Linked DNA regions of Homo sapiens: region 2 is linked to region 1. The links come from fine-mapping of genetic effects on gene expression. Tissue or cell type: whole blood. Region 1 holds a variant in brackets; the other region holds the start of a gene. All regions are shown on one strand. Distances are from middle to middle.

The links. PIP is the estimated chance that this variant, and not a neighbour inherited with it, causes the effect.
Region 2: it holds the start of ANP32A, and the variant in region 1 is fine-mapped to the expression of ANP32A in whole blood (INTERVAL, PIP 0.98).

The regions. Positions count from the first base shown.
Region 1 is chr15:68,736,684-68,744,788 of GRCh38, reverse strand. No RefSeq gene overlaps it. Among named protein-coding and RNA genes, the nearest start is that of MIR4312, 61 kb to the left of the region's middle. The variant A/G (reference allele first, on the strand shown) is at 3,546.
Region 2 is chr15:68,817,797-68,825,881 of GRCh38, reverse strand. It overlaps ANP32A (acidic nuclear phosphoprotein 32 family member A), which reads left to right and starts at 4,987. Exons shown (of 7, transcript NM_006305.4): 1 at 4,987-5,184. The coding sequence starts at 5,131. RefSeq lists enhancers at 1,625-2,425, 5,707-6,288, 6,289-6,870, 8,035-8,085 and silencers at 4,446-4,505, 4,576-4,735, 4,786-5,035, 6,536-6,645, 6,906-7,145 and 2 more.

The DNA.
Region 1 (8,105 bases):
TCCTTTCTCCTAAAGTTCACTGTGCACAAATCGATACATCCATTTCAGCTTTTTTCATGATTAGTGTTTGCTTCATATATATTTTTTCTATTCTTTTACTCTTAACCTACCTATGCAGTATATTTAGAGCTTATTCAGGTAGATTTTTATACAATCTGACATTTCTGCCTTTTAATTGGAGAGTTTGGGCCACTTTTATTTAATGTAACTATAAATATGGTTGTATTTAAATACACCATTTTGCTATTTGTTTTCTATTTGTCCCTACTATTCTTTGTCCCTTTTTCCTTTTTTTTGACTTCCTTTTTAATTCATAAAATACTTTAATGATTTCATTTTATCCCTACTTTTGGCTTATTAGCTCTATCTATATTTTACTTTTGAATGATTGCTCTAGAGTTTACCATATACATCTTTAAATTATCACAGTCTAACTCCAAATAATGGTATCAAACTTCACATAGGCCAGGTGTAGTGGCTCACACCTGTAATTCCACACTTTGGGAGGCCGAGGCAGGCGGATCACTTGAGGTCAGGATTTTGAGACTAGCCTGGTCAACATGGCGAAACCCAATCTCTACTAAAAATACAAAAACTAGCTGGGCGTGGTGGTGCACACCTGTAATCCCAGCTCCTTGGGAGGCTGAGACACGAGAATCACTTGAACCCAGGAGGTGGAAGTTGCAGTGAGCCGAGATTGTGCCACTGCGTTCCAGCCTGGGCGACAGAGTGAGACTCTGTCTCAGAAAAAAAAAAAAAAAAGAAATAAACAAACAAAAAGAAAACTTCACGTAGTTAACAAGAACCATGAAGGTTCTGAGGTAATACTGTACTTGCAAGCATACAAATTAGCCTGCCACAATTTGATGCTAGTAGAAGACTCAAGATTTTTTTGTCTGCCTCTATTGATGGTATAAAAAGTAAAGAAAAAAAAAAGAAAGACTCTGAACTTGTGCATCCTGGGTCAAAGACAAAGAACCTTATAACTCATACCACAGTAGTCAGTGGATGCTATGCATACAGTGAATTTGCATTCCAGCCAATGAACCCTGGGCTTAGGAAACCCCAATCTTTTATAAGGGCCTGCAAACATATCTGCTCAACCTTTGCCCTTGAGGGACAAATGCAAGTGGCTTTATTATTTTCCTCGGAATGTTGTTCTTCCTAGTGTTTTTACATTTCTCAACCAATTCCTCTGCTTTGAATGTTGTGTGTATGTGCAAACGCATAATCTCAGCGGACAAAACTGAAGTGTAATACCTCTGGTGGGCTAAGGTCACATTTCTCAGGCTCCTTGTGAAGAATTTAGGACACAGCTGATAGATGCCAGCCACACCAAACTGGCCTCTGTGGTAGGCCTGAGACCATTTGCTTCATTTTTCTCAGTTCAGCTGTTTGTTGCTGTAAGGCCTTGGCCACACTGTGAATATTCCCTAGACCTTGATTTTCCTGGAAGTCAGCTGGGCATAATAAATAATGCCTGTATTTTCTCAGCATCTTTTTATCACTTGAAATTTTTAAGAAGTTTTTGTACTTATTGAAGGGCTCTTTTAGACTTATTTAGACAGATTTTCTTTTATCCTATGTCTCTCTTGTGTGCACATAAAAAACAAATATAGGCAAAATAAATTGGTTATGACACTCCTAAGACTTCTCCACAATTAGATTCTGGCTCTTCTGCATCACCATGGCTCAGCATCATTGATGTCTGTGTTTTTTGATACAAGATTGTACTCAGTGTTAGCAAGAGGTTGAAGAGGCAGCATTTCATTTGTTTTTTTTTTTTTTTTAAGACTGAATCTCGCTCTGTTGCCCAGGCTGGAGCACAGTGGCGAGATTTGGCTTCCTGCAACCTCTGCCTCCCAGGTTCAAGCGATTCTCCCCCCTCAGCCTCCCGAGTAGCTGGGATTATAGGCGTGTGCCACTACACCTGGCTAATTTTTTTTTTTTGTATTTTTAGTGGAGATGGGGGTTTCACCATGTTGGCCAGGCTGGTCTTGAACTCCTGACCTCAAGTGATCTGCTCACTTCAACCTCCCAAAGTGCTGGGATTGCAGACTTGAGCCACTGTGCCCGGCCAGCATTTCTTAATAGGATGCTTCATTTTTGCTTTTGGAATTTTCTTCCTAACCAGTAACACTGATTTTGCAAGTGCAAGCAATAGAAGTATCTCAGGACTGCTGCATGGTTGAATGATTCGAAGATGTTAAAGTGGGAAAAATCAGGGCTTTTGAATTGGAAAATATAGTATGGAATGTATTTTTCCTCATGTGGTGTGATGATCAATAAATAACCTGCCTTCTGTTTCTTCACAGCCCTTTGTGATATAGGTCCTTTTTATCATCTCTTTATTTTTTGGGTTTGAAACTAAATCTCAGAAAGCTAAAGAAACCTGTGCAAGCTGCTGGAGGAAGGGTTAGTACCCAGCTGTGTCTGACTCAAAGCCATCCCCTTTCTATTTCCCTTCCTATGCCTCCATTCTGACTTTTTTTTTTTTTTTTTTTGTGCTGGAGTTTCGCTCTTGTTGCCCAGGCTGGAGTGCAATGTGCAATGGCGCAATCTCGGGCAGCTCTATGGGTCAATAAACTCTGTTGACAGGGGAACTTGGGGGTCCTGCTGTCTGACACCAGGAATTAAAGTGGAGAGTAAAAATTCTGGAGAATTTAATTTTGAAAATATTCTTTTTCTTTTTCTTTTCTTTTCTTTTTTTTTTTTTTGAGACAGAGTCTCGCTCTGTCGCCCAGGCTGGAGTGCAGTGGCATGATCTCGACTCACTGCAACCTGTACCTCCCAGGTTCAACCTGTACCTAGGGAAGCTAGGCTGGGTTTTCTGTTTAGGGGTCTCATAAGGCTGAAACCAAAGTGTCAGCAGGACTAGGCTTTTATCTGGAGGTTCTAGGGGAGAATCTACTTCCAAGCTCACTCGGGTTGGTAGAACTCAGTTTCTTGTGGTTGTAGGACTGAGGATCCTGTTTCCTCCCTGGTGGTCAGCTGGGGGTATCTTTACTCCTAGAGGCTGCCTTCATTCTTTCTCACATTTTTCATGTCCCCACCCATCCCAGCAATAGTGAGTTGAGTACCCCTCATGCTCTGAATCTCTGGTTTCCTCCTCCTCCACCTCCTTTTTCTTCTTCTTCTTTTTTTTTTTTTTTTTTGTTGAGATGGAGTCTCACTCTGTTACCCAGGCTGGAGTGCAGTGGCACTATATTAGCTCACTGCAATCTCTGCCTCCTGGGTTCAGGCGATTCTCCTGCCTCAACTCAGCCTCCTGAGTAGCTGAAACTACAGGCATGTGCCACTACGCCTGGCTAATTTTTGTATTTTTGGTAGAGACGGGGTTTTGCCATGTTGGGCAGGCTGGTCTCGAACTCCTGGCCTCAAGTGATCCACCTACCTTGGCCTCCCAAAGTGCTGGGATTGTAGGTGTAAGCCACCTCACCCACCCACTGACTTGAGTCTCTGATTCCAGCTACACAAAGTTCTCTGCTTTTAAGGGCTCATGTGATCTGATTGACCCCAGATTGACCCCACCTGAGCAAAGCAGG[A/G]CATGGCTCTATTTTAAGGTTCAAAACCTCAATTATATCCACAAAGACCCTTTTTGCCGTGTAACAGATAAATTCACAGGTTTCAGGGATAAGTGCATGGGCATTGTTGGGGGCCTGCCACACCCCCCCCCCCAGCTAGTTTGTAATCTCCATGAGGAGTTGGGGTGCCAGCACAGCCCTGGCACTGTGGGTGCCTAATAAACTCTGTTGCCAGGGGAACGTGAGGGTCCTGCTGTCTGACACCAGGAATTAAAGTGGAGAGTAAAAATTCTGGAGAATTTCATTTTGAAAATTTTCTTTTTCTTTTCTTTTTTTTTTTTTTGAGACAGAGTCTCGCTCTGTCGCCCAGGCTGGAGTGCAGTGGCATGATCTCGACTCACTGCAACCTGTACCTCCCAGGTTCAAGCGATTCTCCTGCCTCAGCCTCCCAAGTAGCTGAGATTACAGGTGACCACCACCACACCTGGCTAATTTTTGTATTTTTAGTAGAGGTGGGGTTTTACCATGTTGGCCAAGCTGGTCTCAAACTCCTGACCTCAGGTGATCTGCCCACATTGGACTCCCAAAGTGCTGGGATTATAAGCGTGAACCACTGTGCCCGGCCCTGAAAATATTCTTTACTCAGAAATTGATAGAGGAAAGTATGTTACCCCCTTGTGGGAGGTAAATGCCTTCAAGTCTTCGGCTCTTGCAGGTGGTAGTCCTCAGAGCGTGGTTCTCTTGGGTGTGAGGAAGGCTTTGGGTGCTGTGTGCTGGTGTTGGGGAAGAGGGGCAAGATGGCACATCAGCCTGGGCAGAATGAGTGTGCTCAGGTCCAGGAAGCTGGGTTGACAGATGCAGGCTTTTCTCAGGTGGGCTTTCAGCCAGTGCTTTGGGAAATCTTAGAGACAGAGGCTATGTGGCTGAAAATAAATCCACACACATCTGGTCAGGTCTACTTTGTGCGGGGGTCTACTACATTCAGGACCTCACCAAACCTCAGAGAAACCCCTCTAGGTGGGCTATAGCGGCTTCATTTTACAGACGAGGAAACTCAGGCTCAGAAGTTGAATGATATGTTCAAAGTTACACACTGAGGCACAGAGGCAGGACCGGAGCTTGTTCTTCGGTCTCGTAGTTCAATGCTCTTTCTGTTTTTGTAGTTGCCTCCTGGGTTGGAGGTAGGAAGACGTGGTTTGTCCCTAATGTATTAGGTGACAGTGGAAGCTCCTCTACTTGTTATTCAAGTCCTAGCCTACCTCTTTCCTCAGTCTATATTAATCTCTTGTTTCTTCTGAATTCCTACGACATTCATTTATTCATTCATTCTGAACTCAGTACATACTTACTGAGTGCCTATGACCTACTAGGCACTGTGCCAGATGCTGGATACAATGGAGAACAGGACAGACATGGTCCATCTCTCAATGGCTTACAGAGCTGCCTTCACTGTTGGGGAATACAGATGATTATATCAGTAACAATGGTGAAGTGTGATGAATGTTGGGATGGGGAAATCGAGGATGCTATGGGATTACTGAGGTGTAGGTTCTGACCTATTCTAGTGATGTAAAGGATGTTTCTTGGGAGGTGGCACTGAACCTGAGACCTGAAAGATAAGATGAAATTTGCCAGACCAAGAGAGTAGGCAGGTGATCCATGCAGAAGGAATGTGCTATACGAAGACCAGGAGGCAAGACAGTCCCTGGACACAGCTCAGGAAATCAGAAAAGCAAACGAAAACAAAAAGTAGGTCTGTCTGGGATGTTTTTTGACATCAACCAATTCCCCGACACCAGCTGGGTACCTAGCAATTCAATTCAATTCTGACACTAACTACCCAGAGTTAGTGTGGACCCCACAGCTTAAGGGCTCAGTTGCATAAGACTGCCCCCACTTCAGACGCCAGTCCCAAATCTCAGACCACCTGTACTTCTGACCAACTGGCTGTAAATCAGGGCTTCCCATGAACCCCTCCTCAGGTTTGTTAATTTGCTAGAATGGCTTGCAGAACTCAGAAAGGCACTTTACTTATAGTTTTAAGTAAGTGTTTGTTATAAAGGATATCCTAAAGCATACAAATGAACAGCCAGATGAGAAGGTACATAGGCCAGGTCTGCAAGGGTCCTGAGTGCGGGAGCTTCTGGCCCTGGGTAGTTGGGGTGCATTCACCAACTCAGAAGCTCTCAGAAACTTTCTGTTCAAAAGTTATATAGAGGCCGGGCGAGGCGGTTCACACCTGTAATCCTAGCACTTTGGGAGGCCGAGGCAGGCAGATCACTTGAGGTCAGTAGTTCAAGACCAGCCTGGCCAACATGGCAAAACCTTGTGTCTACTAAAAATATAAAAATTAGCCAGGCATGATGGCGGACGCCCATAATCCCAGCTACTTGGGAGGCTGAGGCATCAGAAACTCTTGAGCCCAGGAGGTGGATGTTGCAGTGAGCTGAGATCGTGCCACTGTACTCCAGCCTGGGTGACACAGCGAGACTTCATCTCAAAAAAATAAAAAGGTGTATAGGGCAGTGGCTCATGCTTGTAATCCCAGCACTTTATGAGGCCAAGGTGGGAGGTTCACTTGAGGCAAGGAGTTCAAGACCAACCTGGGCATCACAGTGAGACCCTGTCTCTATAAAAAAATAAAAGTAGGCTGGGCGCAGTGGCTCATGCCTGTAATCCCAGCACTTTGGGAGGCTGAATTGGGTGGATTACCTAAGGTAGGGAGTTTGAGACCAGCCTGACCAACATGGAGAAAAATACAAAAAATTAGCCGGGCATGGTGGCGGATGCCTGTAATCCCAGCTACTTGGGAGGTGGAGGCAGGAGAATCACTTGAATCCCAGAGGTGGAGGTTGTGGTGAGCTAAGATCATGCCATTGCACTCCAGCCTGGGCAACAAGAGTGAAACTCCATCACAAAAATAAATAAATAAATAAATAAATACATAAATACATAAATAAAAGTAAAAATATTAGCCGAGTGTGGTGGCATATAACTGTAGTTCCAGGTACTCAGGAGGCTGAGGTGGGAGGATCTCTTGAGTCCCAGAGTTCAATGAGGCTAAGAGTGAGCTATGATCATGCCACTGCACTACAGCCTGGGTGACAGAGTGAGACCCTGTCTCTAAAAAAAATTAAGGCTGGGTGTGGTGGCTCACACCTGTAATCTCAGCACTTTGGGAGGCCCAGGTGTGCAGTTCACTTAAAGTTAGGCATTCAAGACTAGCCTGGCTAGCATAGTGAAACCCTGTCTCTAGTAAAAATTCAAAAATTAGCCGGGTGTGGTGGTGTGTGCCTGTAATCCCAGCTATTACAGAAGCTGATGTGGGAGAATTGCTTGAACCCAGGAGGCGGAGGTTGCAGTGAACCAAGATCACACCACTGCACTCCAGCCTGGGCAACAGAGTGAGACTCTGTCTCAAAAAAAATAGATAAATAAAATAAAAATAGTAACAAAAGTTTTATATAGCTCTATCTCCAGTCCCCCCTCCCCAACTTTGAGGTCAATGGGTGGGGCTGAAAGTTTCCACCCTCTTTTTTTTTTCTTGTATGTTATTCCAATGAAAAGTTTCCATCCTCTTTTACAGGGTCATACTCTGTTGCCAGGCTGGACGATCACAGCTCACTGCAGCCTTGACCTCCTGGGCTCAAGCGATCTTCTTATCTCTCAGCCTCCCAAATAGCTAGGACTACAGGTGTGCACCAGCACGCCCGATTAATTTTTGTATTCTTTTTTTTTTGAGACGAGTCTCCCCCCGTCACCCAGGCTGGAGTGCAGTGGCATGATCTCGGCACACTGCAAGCTCCACTTTCCGGGTTCATGCCATTCTCCTGCCTCAGCCTCCTGAGTAGCTGGGACTACAGGCGCCCGCCACCTTGCCTGGCTAATTTTTTGTATTTTTAGTAGAGACGGGGTTTTACCATGTTAGCCAGGATGGTCTCGAACTCCTGACCTCGTGATCTGCCTGCCTCGGCCTCCCAAAGTGCTGGGATTACAGGTGTGAGCCACCACACGCAGCCTAATTTTTGTATTCTTCTGCAGAGATGGGTTTTTGCCATGTTGCACAGACTTGTCTCAAACCCCTGGGCTCAAGTGATCTGTCCACCTCAGCCTCCCAAAGTGTTAGGATTACAGGTGTGAGCCACTGCACCTAGCCAAGTTTCCATCCTCTTATTACTTGGTCTTTCTGGTGCCAGTCCCATCCTGAGATGCTACCGTAACTCACCTCATTAGCATAAACTCAAGTATGATGGAAAGGGGCTCCTAATAAATTACAAAAGATATTCCTATCTTTCAGGAAATTCCCAGCATTTTAGGAGCTCTGTGCCGAGAACCAGAAACAAAGGCCAAGTATTTATTTTATTATTACCACAGTCTATAAGGAGCAGAGAGTTTCAGGCAGCAAATGGCAAGAGATGAGGTCTCAGAGATTAGAGGACCACGCCAAAAAAGAAAGAAGTTAAAAAATTTCCAAAAAAAAAAAAAATTTCTACTTTCCATTAGGGTAATGGGGAACCACCAAGGATTTAAGTAGGGGAGTGACTGTGATTTGATTTGCATATCATAATGATCACTTTTGTG
Region 2 (8,085 bases), 81 kb before region 1:
CTATAGCTCCTCATTCCATTATTTGTCTTTAAGGCATTTATTTTTTTCCTTCACAGCCATATTTTAATACTAAAAGTAAGAGCTTACAGCTCTGGTTTTCTTCCTGATGAATGGTAAACAAACTTCCCTCATTGCTACTTCAAAACTGTCTTTAATAAATATATTTAAGAAACCGATTCACAAAATTTCTAGAGACTTCCAAACAAGTGTGCAAGTGATTTTTTTTTTTTTTTTTTTGAGATGGAGTTTCACTCTTGTTGCCCAGGCTGGAGTGCAATGGTGCGATTTTGGCACATGGCAACCTCTGCCTCCCGGGTTCAAGTAAGTCTCCCGCCTCTGCCTCCCGAGTAGCTGGGATTATAGGCACGTGCCACGAAGCCCGGCTTTTTTTTTTTTTTTTTTTTTTTGTATTTTTAGTAGAGATGGCATTTCACCATGTTGGCCAGGCTGGTCTCGAACTCCTGACTTCAGGTGATCCACCCGCCTTGGCCTCCCAAAGTGCTGGGATTACAGGCGTGAGCCACCATACCTGGCTTTTTTTTTTTTTTTTTTTTGAGACGGAGTCTCGTTCTGTCGCCCAGGCTGGAGTGCAATGGAGTGATCTCTGCTCACTGCAAGCTCCGCCTTCCGGGTTCACGCCATTCTCCTGCCTCAGCCTCCCGAGTAGCTGGGACTACAGGCGTGCGCCACCTCACCCGGCTAATTTTTTGTATTTTTAATAGAGACGGGGTTTCACCGTGTTAGCCAGGATGGTCTCCATCTCCTGACCACGTGATCCGCCCACCTCGGCCTCCCAAAGTGCTGGGATTACAGGCATGAGCCACCGCGCCCGGCCTTTTTTTTTTTTTTTTTAATGAGACAGTATCTGGCTATGTTGCCCAGGCTGGAGTGCCGAGGCGTGATCTCTACTCACTGCAATCTCCACCTCCCGGGCTCAAGGGATCCTCCCACCTCAGCCTCTATTGTAGCTGGGACCACAGGTGCACGCCACCATGCCAGGCTAATTTTTTTTTTTTTTTTTCATTTTTGGTAAAGATGGGGTTTCACCATGTTGCCCAGGCTGGTCTCGAACTCCTGAGCTCAAGCTATCTGCCTGCAGCTTCCCAAAGTGTTGGGATTACAGGCGTGAGCCACTGCACCTGAGCCTTTTTTTCCTTTTTAAAAGAAACCAACCATCTTTAAGCGGTTTTTAAGATTTTTACTGTTTTTTGTTTTTAGAGAAACAGGTCTTGCTATGTTGTCCGAGCTGTTCTTGAACTCTTGGGCTCAAGTGATCCTTTCACTTCAGCCTCCCAAGTAGCTGGGCCTACAGGGGAACATCACCATGCCTGGCTTATTAATTTCACTTTAAAAGTCACATATATGACAGTTTTCATCCAACAGGGCTTTTTCTCCCTGACCAATCCATTAATAAGGTAACTATCCAATCATTAAAAAAAAATTCTTTTTCTAAATTATCCAATACTTTATTAAGCAAAATAAAATAATATTTAACTTTTTAGATCCCAGGCTTCAACATTATTTGCTATTCAATGAAAATAAATAAAATGTAGTGGTTTTCACATTTGTTACCACAGATTTCAAAATAATAATCTACATTCCTAAAAACTATTTACATATACAAACAAAAAAGAACATAATTAAGCTGGAGTTTTTCCATGTCATTGTCTTTGGGGTCCAAGCAGCAGAACCATGATGTAGGTAAGAGAGTACTACGGCCGATTGCCAGTGATGTGATTCAAGCTCAAGAACAAAAAGTTGAGCTGTGGGTATATTAGCTTGACTCATAAAAAGGATGCTAACCAAAGGGTCTCCATCTTTAGAGACCAAACAAGGGCAAATGTGCTATTGGTGCAAAAGTAATTGTGGTTTTGCCTTTTTTAAAAAAAATGGTAATTACTTTTGCACCAACCTAATAAAATGGCAATAGTAACGATATGGTTATTTGTAAAACAGTACTCTCCTACACATTTCAAAAGAGCCTAAGGACACTCATTGTTCATGTCTTTGAGAACAAAATAGGCTGCTCATTTATTTGGAATGGTTCTTGATGGAGGATATTCTGGAAGGCGGGAAGATCTTTCCTTCCTGGGCCATCTATCTCTCTAGGGGGTTAAACTTTGAATTGTATCTCATTTATTCTTCTCAGTGTGACTCAAACCTAGTTTCAGAGGTTAGAGACTCTACATCTTTCAAACACAATTCCTGTTGTAGAATTACTCAGTAGATAGGAACTCTTACCTGTTCCCAACTCCGTTTCAAAATTCAGCCAAGATTCCTTGATATGGGATTTCTTTCTATATTTTCTGAAATGCAGTGCCACTTAGAACACTTATTTACTATTATAATATACAATAAAATGTAATTTAAAAAACAACTTTGTAAAATAAGATATTTGTAAGAGCAGTGGTTTTTTTTATATTTGGTCATGTTGTGTGGGGCAAATACAGCTCAGCTTTGGCTTTACTATATTCCTTTTTTAATAATAAAAAAGCAAAATCATATGAAAATTTTCTTACATATAGATCTATTTGTAAAAGCAAAAGAAAATTTATTTCAAGTGTGTAAGGAAAGCGGAAATTACTCAATTGGTTATACATATACTTTTGGATATTTCAATTTCTGTAACGACTGACATCCAGTGAAGCCTTCTTTCAATTTTCTAACATTAATACAAAAGTCATCAAAATGTATAAATGTAAGATGCTTCTAAAAACAACTGTCACATTTAACGTTTTGATTTAGTAATCAGGCCATGATTTTTTCGATTCTAATTTGTTTCTGTACTTTCTCTTTAATGGGGGAGGGGGTGGGCTTCTAAGTCTTCCTCTTGAGTCTTTGTACAATAAAGTGAGCTATTTGCTTCTATTTAGCAAAGCTGGATGGGGCATATCTCTGCATTTGATTGGTTGGTTTTTAAGGGATTACTCCTCTGGAAAGACACTGTCTCATATTGCATTGCTAGCAGCGTGGTCTTAACTGTGGTTAAACTTTTAAATTGAAAATGAACATTTACCATCAAAGAGAACACAAACTTCAGGACTCCTATGTTACACAGATCATACACACCATATTGACCTGTTTTGATAAGAGTTCTGTTTGAATACAATCCTAAACACCATATCCAGAAATAACAACTGTCTCAATGGCATAAATAGGAAATTTGGGGTTCCTCATGTATTACAAAGAAGCCAATAAAACTTAGAATAAATTCCAACTATACAAATAGGCTTCAATAAGATTAACAAAATCTGAGGATGACAGGCAAGTCAACAAGTTAAATAAATTATACTATTTATACCCAGATAAAATAAAACAATGACTTCTAACTTTTATGGTGCATTTCCCACCTAATCAGAGTAAACATCAGACTTCAAATTCCATTTATCATTTTATCTGAAAGAATTTACTGAGTAAAATCCTTAGTTGCAGGGCTTTACACTTGCAATCCATCAGGTTGCAATATTAAAGTTACTACAGCTTCTTCCCCAGTGTAAGCATTCTGTATGTGTTTTATTTACATTGTCACTTTTTATTTCCTCCTCAACTTCGTATGTCTAAGAATGAAACTGGATTGCTATTATGCAACAGTATTTTAACTTTGCAACATACATACTGGCTTATCTCTCCTTTGAACTCCTGTTCCTGAAAAATAAACATATGTATCCAGAAAAACTACCTTGAGGCGTGTGGGGAAGAGTGCAGACATGTAGAAACAAACACTAAAATACAGTCGTGTGGAAAGGTAAGGATGTATCTGTCCTCGTTGACAACAATCCCCGTGGTTTATTAACAGCCACAGGCAGCCAACTTAGTGCCGTAAGTCGGTAACCCAGTGGGCATCGGGGCTTTAAGGTCTCTTAAAACTTAATGTGATTCAAAAATACCCAAGGCAACCACGCCGAAAAACCAGGAGAAAGGGCTCCAGTTAGAGCCTCCTTGGCAACCCAAACCGAACCGAATGACTCAGGTGGACGATTAGAATAAACCGTGCGCCGTTCTCTTTCACTAGGTCTATAAAGCCCAGAAATTATGTTTGGTCCAGAAAACCAGGAGTTATGAGCACCTTCCTTTTCCACCTTTTAATATTCTACATATCTAGCAACGGTTCTTAATCCATGGTCTTCATTCATTTATTGCCTAAACAAGATCTTGGGTGTCTCTTGGTGATCACTTCTTCCAAGCTGACCTAATATGACAGCAAAGTGAAAAGCCTCTTCGTGGGAAGGGTCGCGACCGCGCGGTAAGTCATCCAAAAGTGGAAGCATCTTGCTTTTACTGACTTATGTATACGAGGGTGGCGATGGTGGCGGCCTGACAGGGACGAGGCCGGAGGGGAAGGGGCGCGCGGGCTGCTGGGCAGCCGCGGTGGGGGTGACGGGGGCAGCCACGCTCCCCAGCGCGAGCCGCCGGACCCGGGACCCGACGAGCCCCTCCCGGCATTGCACCCTGACCCCTCTCCTCCTTCCAGGCCTTTCATCTGCCCTCCCGCTGGGCAGCCCGCGGTCCCCGGACCTCAAGCCGCCCGCCTCCTTCCGCAACCCCGTCGCGCCGCCCCGCGAAGCCCTCGGCCGGGCGGGGACCCCGACCCGACCCCTCCGGCCGCGCCCCTCCCCCTCGCAGAACGCACCTGCGGCCCCGCCCCCGGCCGAACGCTGAGGCGGCGGCTGGCTGGCAAGGCCGGGCGGCTCGGCCCTCGAGGCACAGTCACCTTCCCTTCCCCCGCCATTCCGCCCACCCCCCTCACTCAGCCACAGAGCAGCCGCCGCGCTCCTCAGCCGCCCCGAAATCTAAAGGGGTCCGTCTCCGGCACCACTACCAAATGGCCGAGCCTCCCTGGCCGGCTGCGCAGCCCGCCCATTGGTCCCTTCCCCCCCCCGCCGCCACTGCCATTGGCTGTTGCCCGGAGACCCTCGGCGGCGATTGGCTCGGGCCGCTGCCGCTCGTCCATGGGGCCGCAGATCCCGCCTCCACGGCGATCAGGTTAGTGTGCGCCGCGGGTGCTGGGGGCTCGAGAACCGAGCGGAGCTGGTTGAGCCTTCAAAGTCCTAAAACGCGCGGCCGTGGGTTCGGGGTTTATTGATTGAATTCCGCCGGCGCGGGAGCCTCTGCAGAGAGAGAGCGCGAGAGATGGAGATGGGCAGACGGATTCATTTAGAGCTGCGGAACAGGACGCCCTCTGATGTGAGCATTTGCCAAAAATATCTCTGTCGGTCCATTCTCCTACTTTGTGTGTGTGTGTGTGTGTGCGCGCTGGGGGGAGGCACTTTTTTTGGGGGGGGGCGCCCGGGAGGTGCGGGTTTGGGGGTCGGACTGCAAGCGAATTGGCAAGGCTGGGGGGTTGCAATGCCATCCGAGCATGTTCCGGCTGCCGCCGCCGCTGCCCTTGGTGTGTGACTACCTGTGCGTGTGCTCCCGCGTGTGCGAGTGTGGGTGCGAGAGTGTGCGTGCGAGTGTGCACCCATCGGGGGCCGGCGGGCGCACGCGTTTGGGTCGGAGAGAATGAGGCGAAATCACCCTCGGAGATCGCTGCTCCCGTGACTCCGTCTGGGGGGAAGATTAACGAGGGAGGAGGAGGAGAGGGGCTGCCTCCTGGATTTAACAACAAAAAAAGGGGGTTTTACATTTTATAAATGTATCCCCCCTTCCGCCCCCCTCCCGCGCCTCCCCCCTCCCTTTCTCTCGCTCGCTCGCTCGCACACACAATAAGTTTGGGGCTTCGCGAGTCCGGTTTAGTTTCTGATAAATGTGGGCCGAGGCCCCCGGGGAGAGCGCGTGGGGAGGGGGCTGCAGCGGAGTTGGGAATGGCTGGAGTTTAAAGTGCGTCTTCATTTCTTTGCAGTGATGAGGCGAGAGACGGGGGAGCCATATTTGTAACTTTGTAGTGTTCGTGAACGCGCCCTTTCTCTCCCTCCCTCCCTTTCTCTGCCTCCCTTCCTCTCCTCCTCTTTCTCCCTCACTCTTTCCACCCCACCTTCGGGCCAGATGCTGATGTTTCTTCCTTTCCTTCCGAAGGGAGGATAAATTAGAAGGAGGGGGAGGGATTTTCGAACGTGCTAAGGCACAGATAATCCCCGCGTCTCCCTGCCTCCAGCGATCGCTGGTGCAAGTTGCCCAAAGGCTACGTCCCGGTGCCCCCTCGCCCCAGCTCCTTCCGGCTTCCCCAAGATGCCAGCCTTTGGGCCCTGGTGCCCCCCAGCTCGAACCCCCGGCCCGTCTTTCTCAGTGCTGGGCTTGTCGGCAGCCATTCGGCGCCTGCTTAATAAATGGGCACGGGAAACTTTGTCAGGACGCGAGCTGCCCGGAGCTGGCGCCCGTGGTGGGTACTGGCTGGGTCCACGTTTATGCGGGCATGGCAAACACGCAGCTCTAGGATGGGAGTTTGCCCGCTAGCCGCCGTTATTGATTGGGCAGCGGCGGGAGCACGGCCGGAGGAAACTTACACGGGTGGGAATCGCGAGGCTCGAGCGAAAGCTTACCCCTGAGGAGGGGGAAGGTGAGGGTGGGTGACTCGAACGCTGGTTTTTATTTCTGCCTCCCTCTCGCTTTCAAACCTGAGTGTTTTCGGCGAGTTGGCGGCTCTGGGGCGGAGACCCTGGCCAGCTCCCCTCTTGGCCCCTTGGGGGGACCGGGGACGCGCTGGCGGGAGGACGCCCCCAGTCTCGGTGGCCCGAGCTCCATGGAGTTGGGAGTTTGGGCAGCACCGTGCGCTGGCCTGTCGCCCCTCTAGCCCGTTAAACCCGAATCCCGGCGAAGGCAGGCCTCGCTTCCTCTTTTCCCTAGTTCCTCCCCCAAACCTGAGTGAGACTTTTGAAAACAAGATCCTTTTTGTCTACCCCCTCCCCGCCTTAACGCAGCTGTGGACTGGAGACGTGCGAGTGCCTTATGGCGCGCAGGGCGGGGAGGGGGCGGCCGCGGGAGAGGAGGGGGCGCCGCCGGTGGAGGCCGGAGTTTCCGCGCACTATTTGCGGGCGGTTTGCCTCTCTCCGGCCGCTTTCGTCCCGGCCGGGACCCGGCGCCTAGCGTTTGGGGGCTGGGTGTGGTGATGGGGGAGGGGGCCGGGGCCGCGGTCTTCCCGCGTACTTTCCGGAAGCCCCCTGCGCGGAGGGGGAAGGGCGCCAAGCGCGGGGCCGGGGTCGCCGCGGGTGGGTGCGGGGGCGCGGCTGGCCTGGCGAACCCGACCGACGCTGCCGGCCCCCCGGGAGCAAGCAGGAAAGCGGGTCGAACCGGCTCTTTAAACTTCCACGAGTGTGTGTGTGTGTTGGGGAGGGGAGCGCACCGCGCCGTACTGGGAGCGATTTCTCACGCTTCGCCCCCTCGCCTCCCAGCCTCGCGGCCCACACGCCTGCCCCCTGCCTGGAGGCGGGGTGGGGCGCGGGTGGCGGAGGAGGGGGCACTTTCTGCACATTTGCGGGGGAGGGGGAGAAAGCTAGCGAAAGAGGGACAAAAGGGTTGGGGGAGGAGGAACTGTATTTTTTTAAACGTTCTTAAGACAAATGGCTCCCGGAGCGCGCCCCCTGCGCCCCTCCCCGCCGCGCTGCCCCTGGGCCCCCCACACACCCACCTTCGGCACCTCTCCCAACTGGGCTCCGGGAGCTGGTGGCCATGCCGCGACGCCGAAATAGGACGAGCAGCCATGTTTCCCGGGGCTCGCGCCGCACGCCCCGCCCCTCCTCCCCGGCGCGGGGCGCAGGGCTCGGAATGCGGGCTCCGGGCTCCATGTGGCGCGGGGCGCTGGCAGGCGGGCGGCGGGGGTGCAGTACGCGCGGGGCCGGCCTTGTGGCTTTCTAGGCTGGTTTTGAGTTCCAGGTGTTTTATTTATTTATTTTTATTTATTTATTTTTTTTAACGGCTAGGCCCACTCGGGGCTGAGCCCGAAGGGCGCCGAGGCGTTACTGGGGGGCAGGAGCCGCCTCCAGGGCCCTGCGCGCCTGTGGCACGACTGCCGGGCGCCGGGCTGCCATTTTGTCACCGTGGCTGTTGTCGCTGTGGGGGGCGGGGGGAGCGGAGTCTTGCGCCATCACCCCGACGGCCTCCCGCGCGGAGGAGGCAGGGGGAGCCGGCTTTGGGGACCCCCAGTTGTGC